2 separate regions of the Homo sapiens genome follow, and region 1 is linked to region 2. The links come from fine-mapping of genetic effects on gene expression. A gene starts in region 2. The other region holds a variant in brackets. All regions are shown on one strand. Distances are between the middles of the regions.

The links. PIP is the estimated chance that this variant, and not a neighbour inherited with it, causes the effect.
Region 1: its variant is the best candidate, but not a certain one, in a credible set for the expression of LINC02381 in left ventricle (GTEx, PIP 0.63).

Annotation. Positions count from the first base shown.
Region 1 is chr12:54,175,810-54,178,717 of GRCh38, reverse strand. It overlaps a transcript of SMUG1 not described here. Among named protein-coding and RNA genes, the nearest start is that of SMUG1, 12 kb to the left of the region's middle. The variant A/G (reference allele first, on the strand shown) is at 1,232.
Region 2 is chr12:54,124,583-54,127,490 of GRCh38, reverse strand. It overlaps LINC02381 (long intergenic non-protein coding RNA 2381), which reads right to left and starts at 1,420. Exons shown (of 2, transcript NR_026656.1): 1 at 879-1,420. FAM242C (family with sequence similarity 242 member C) reads left to right here and starts at 1,096. Exons shown (of 3, transcript NR_170197.1): 1 at 1,096-1,164; 2 at 1,678-1,731. RefSeq lists enhancers at 1-412, 413-1,046.

The DNA of each region.
Region 1 (2,908 bases), 51 kb before region 2:
AGATTGAAGCTAGCCTGTGAAGGGTCTTGAATGCTAGAATAATCTTTGAGAATTTAAAGTGTAGTGGGGGAAGTGAGATGCACAGAACACACACACTGAAAATACCCAACAATAGGTGGAAACCCATAGAAGGAGATGAAGGGGCAAACCATGTAGGAGGCAGTGTGGGTGCAGTGGGGAAAGGGATGGGAAGAGAGGGGATGAGTCTATAGGGAGGACATCTAGGGGCATAGCAGGTCTGGTTGAAAGCCTAGAGTTGGGGTCTCTAGGTGATGAGATAGTGGGATAGGATTGGGTAATACACAGAGGCACTTGAACAGTAGTGACCAGAATGACTTGAAGGCCTGGGTATGGCAGAGTCGCTGCTGGGTCTGGGTCCTAGTGGGGCTGTTGCTTTCAATTCCTGGGGTGCATCTTGTCGGAGAGGTTGATTAAGGTCCTGGGCCTGCCTTTCCCTAAGGACACTGTATTACACTGCTAGGGCTGCCATGACAAAACTACCACAGACTGGGTGGATTAAAACAACAGAAATTTCTGACACTTCTGGAGCCCGTTAAGTCCAGGATCAAGATGGTTTGATCTTTCCTGAGGCCTCTCCTTAGCTTGCAGATAGCTGCCTTCTTGCTGTGTCCTCCCATAGCCTTTTCTGAGCATGTACCTCCCTGGTGTTTCTCTTCTTGGAAGGATACCAGTTGTACTGGATTAGGTCCCCCCTTATTACCCAATTTAACCTTAGGTGCCTCTTTAAATGCCCTATATCCAATATAGTCATATTGGGGCTTCAACATACAAATCGGCAGGGGGGCATAATTCAGTCTATAACAGGCACACAAAGTCATGTCACTGCTTTTTTTGTCCCCAACCAATGTCAACCATAAACAAACTAGGGTACTTAGGAGTGCCTTTTTTCCAGTCTGGAGGATTGGAAGCTGGTCTAGGGGCTTAGGTAGCTGATCAGACTTAGTCTCATCAGACTGGCTTTTACCCTTCATTCTAGAGCAGTTTCTTCAGTGCAAATGAGAGTGTCCTTAGGGAAAGGAAAGTCATTGTTTTTTTTTTTTCTCTGAGTGGTAGAGAATGGAGCCTTTAGTTGCTATAAAACAGCATTGTGAGAATTATTCTAAAGCCAAACTGAAATAATTTGGTGTCATCTAGACTTTTGTAGACCAATACAGTAGCCACTAGCCATGTGTGGCTGTTTTAGTTCAAAGTGATTAAGGAAAAAAATTCA[A/G]TTCTTCAGTTCATATTTCAAGTGCTCAATAGCCACACATGGCTAGTGACTACTGATTGGATGACACAGAAATTGAACATTTCCATTATCACAGAAATTTGTGTTAGACAACACTGATCTAGAGATCAGTGGCTTACAACCCTGCCAGTGAATCCGAATTAACCGGTGGAGGTTTAAAAAAACAAGTGTCTCAGCTCCACTTAAGATATTTTGATTTGTGAGGTGCGAGGGGCATCCTGCTATCCGTCTTCAACAGAATCTCTCCATGCTACCAATATGCAGCCAAGGTTCAGGCAGGAGTGTCCTGAGTGTCTTGAAGGCAAAGGCCAGGGTCTCCTTTTTCTTTTCCCAGTATGTAATCCCACACCTGGCACAAAGTAGGTATTCAGAGCAGACATGGAAGTAATGCATGAATCTGGTCTGGGAAAGCTACCCGTGTGCCATCCAGAAACACTAGTTTCTCTAGAGTTTGTTCTTTTTGCCTAGTGATGGTATTTCAAGTTCTGATTCAGAGGAATGATGGAGGTCCCACCCCAAAACACACAAACTCAACTTGGTGGAGACCAAGGGTGTGCTTGGGGTGGGGATGCTTCTGAGCTTCTGAGGGATAGATTGTGTTGGTGAAGAAAGAGAATTTTCTTACCTCTTTTTTTTTTTTTTTTTTTAGTTTTTATTTTTTTGACACGGAGTCTTGCTCTGTCGCCCAGGCTGGAGTGCAGTGGCGCGATCTCGGCTCACTGCAAGCTCCGCTTCCCGGGTTCACGCCATTCTCCTGCCTCAGCCTCCTGAGTAGCTGGGACTACAGGCGCCCGCTACCACGCCCGGCTAATTTTTTTGTATTTTTAGTAGAGACGGGGTTTCACCGTGTTAGCCAGGATGGTCTTAATCTCCTGACCTTGTGATCCGCCCGTCTCGGCCTCCCAAAGTGCTGGGATCACAGGCATGAGCCACCGTGCCCGGCCTTTTTTTTTGGGGGGGGACAGGATCTTCTTCTCTTTCCCAGGCTGGAGTGCAGTGGCATGATCATGGCTCACTGCAGCCTTGACTTCCTGGGCTCAGGTGTCCTCCCACCTCAGCCTCCCGAGTAGCTGGGACTATAGGCATGCACCACCACACCTGGCTAATTTTTTGTAGAGACGGGGTTTCACTATGTTGCCCAGGCTGGTCTCTATCTCCTGAACTCAAGCAATCCTCCCACCTTAGCCTCCTAAAGTGCTGGGATTACAGGCATGAGGCACCATGCCCAGCCTTTTTTTTTTTTAGATGGAGTTTTGCTCTTGTTTCCCAGGTTGGAGTGCAATGGTGTGATCTTGGCTCACCACAACTTCTGCCTCCCGGGTTCAAGCGATTCTCCTGCCTCAGCCTCCTGAGTAGCTGGGATTACAGGCATGTGCCAACATGCCTGGCTAATTTTGTATTTTTAGTAGAGATGGGGTTTTTCCATGTTGGTCAGGCCGGTCTTGAACTCCTGACCTCAGGTGATGTGCCTGCCTTGGCCTCCCAAAGTGCTGGGATTACAGGCGTGAGCCACTGTGCCTGGCCCCGGCCTTTTATCTCTGTCTTTTTTTTTCTCCCTTACTGATACAGGATAGCTTAAAGAAAATTGGGTCTTGAATTTGGCCACTGTGTGGTCTCACTTTCCTTTTTCAATTCAATAAACATTTATTGATGTCTGCT
Region 2 (2,908 bases):
CATCTCTTGGGTGGGGGAGGAAATCTCAGCCCTGGGAGGAGAGTAGGGGCCTTTTCCTTGCCCTCCTTTGGGAACTGGAGAAGAGCGGGAGATTGTGCTGGAGGCGGGAGGGGGCACTCGCTTGGCTCCATCTCAAGGAAATGGGTCTCTGACTCAAATTGGATTCAGAAAAAAAAAAAAAAGATTTTTGGGAGTTATTCCCTCTCTCAGATCACTCCTAACTTAGAATCAACGTAAGGGCCCAGGACAGCAGGGGACCGCTCTGGGCGGATCCCCCGCCCCGTCCCGGCAGAGTCGGCAACTCGGGCTGGCATTTCCTTCCCTTTCCGCGGGGCGTGTCTGGGGATCTCCAAGCGTCTCTAAGGGCCTGCTGGGGTGAGCGGGTTTGGGACGCGGCTGGGTTTTTCTAGGCTGGTAATCGGTCCCGACTGGGGAATAAGCACACACATCCTTCCTTCAGTACGGGAAGCGGAGCACCCTCTCTCCCACTTTAGCCCTCGAAACCCCAACTCCGCTCCCTTCTCCATCTCCCCTCAAAAAACTTTTCCGAAGTTCCCCCAAGTTGCGTTTGAGGAAAGAAGTCGTCTCCCTCAGACTCTGGGTTTCTCGGCCCCTAACCCTCCCCTCAATCCTCAGTTTCGGAAGCAACCCTCCCCCTCCCCTGCCAGCTACCACCTTAGTCCCTAAACTCGGGGAGGAAAGCTGCTCTGACCCCATGCATCTGACAGAAGCCCAACCCCAGCCCAAATTTCTCCCGGGGGAAGGCAGATTAATATGTCAGCCTGCAGGGGAAACAGGGGTAAGGGGAGGGAGAGACCGGGACGGGGAGAGACAGATTGTTCTCGGGCTGAATCGCACCCGTCCCGGGCCCAGCTTACCTGCTCCGGACAGGCTCATCTAGATTTCCATCCTGCCAAAAGTTTGTCCTTCTCTCAAACGATTCCGGGAGGAGCGCAAACTCGGCTCTTGGGGAGGGCAGGCGGGCCGGGTACCCTTGAAGGCGCAGGCGCCTGATACAGAGCAGGCCCCGGGGAAGCAGGACTCGGGGGCACGGTCGCCAAAGTGGGGACCCGAGCAGCGATCCGGAGGGAGAGCATTCAGGCGCCCGGGCTGGGGGCTACACTGCTGGCGCGGGATGGCCCAGGACAGAGTGGGCGCTATAGCGTGAGTGGCCATCAGGGCCGGGCGGGCCCGGGGAACTGGAGGGAGAGGTCCCTGGGTCCCTGGCGACGTCTCTCGCTTTCTCCAGTTTCTGCCGTGCTGGTGTGCCCCAGCCCACAACATTCCCTCGACCTCTTCTGGGGCGGCGCTCAGGGCCCCCACATGGCGAAAAGGGAGGGTGAAGGGATGAGGCGCCCCTCCCGCCTTAGCCCCTCCTCAGCCCCCACGCCACAGCCCCCCCTTTCTCCCCAGAGCCGAGGGACAGACAGAGAATTGCGACTAGAATTCGATCGATTGGTACGAGGGACCACGTGGCCAGGGGCTGGCCAATGACCAGGCCGCCCGGGATGAGCTAATAATGGAAGCAATTTGTAACTTTCAGTAGCTCTCTAGGCCTGGGTACCGGAGGGAGGGAGGCGGGCAGAGGAGGGGAGATGGGCACCCCCAGTCTTTCCATCCTCCTCATTCGTCTAGGGGCACCCGAATCCCCTATTCCTTATTTCCCCTATCACTCAGGCACTGGCAGGGTCCTTGGCCCACTCCTGTTGGCCGCCGCGGCTCCAAAGCGAGGTAAGCTGGTCCTCTACCCCTCAAACTCTTCACAACCCTCACCCCGTTTACTAGCACCTGCAAACCACAGCCTCCCTTCCTGTCCCATTCGTGAATTTAAATCGGATTTTGTTTTTCCTCTTAGTTGAAAGAAAAAAAATATGTTTGTATTCTTTTGTGTAACCTATCTTGGATTTGGAGAAAATTTTAATTCAAATTAATACACTTATATTGGGGGGGGTGAGTGGTACTTTCTTCCTTTTCAATAAATTTGTATACTTGCTACTTTATGGAGAGTTTACTTTTCTTTGGGGATGAGTTACACCTTATGTTTTCACATGTGTTACTTCTTTAATGATAAGTTCAACTCCTTTCTCCATTCCATCCTCCAATTTTGCTATTTATAAATATCACCTAATAGATTTAGAGTTTATTCATTTTTCTCCTCCCTCACTAGTTTTTCAGCTGTTACAGAATCACCACAATTTATTTTCCTCTGTGTGTGGATGAGGTTTTGCGTTGATTCCTCTTTTTGTTTTGTAAATGAATTTATTGTTTGGGAAACTCTTGGGGGGTGTGTGTGTGTAAAAAAGGTCTTTTGATTAATTCCAACCTCTCCTCTTCTGAAGAACAATTTGCTTGAAATGTTTTGTGTATTTTCCTCGTTTTTATTTGTTTAAATTTGAGGTATTTTACCTTCTTTAAAACCTGGCCTCTTTTTAAAATTTAACCTTTTGCATGTTAAACCATTTTTAAGGTTTTTATTTTATAAACTTCAATGGTTAGTAGATTTACTTGCCTTTCCCTGACCTCCTTCACGCGCCTGCCTCCTCCATCTCAGAACTCCCATCTCCAGCTTCCACAATTCTCAGCTTCCAACGGACTCATCCTCCCCTCTCCTCCCAGCCAAGGAGGGATGCCTGGGAAGTAGACAGTGTCCTTCTTGGGTCAGAACCTATGCTCTGGTTCTAGTTCAGGACACCTCCAGTCTGACCTCCAAGCCGGCAAAACGAGTGAGAGCAGAATTTCTGTTCAACTTTTTCATTTGGGACTAAGTTCTTTACACTTGGCTGTATTCTGGAGAACTCTGATACATGAAATTGAATTTTAAATTCTCATTTTTTCCCTAAATTCTAAGAAAAGTGCAGGCAGATTGTTTTTCTTCCTTAAATGTAAGCTGAACAGCTTAGGGGTCAGC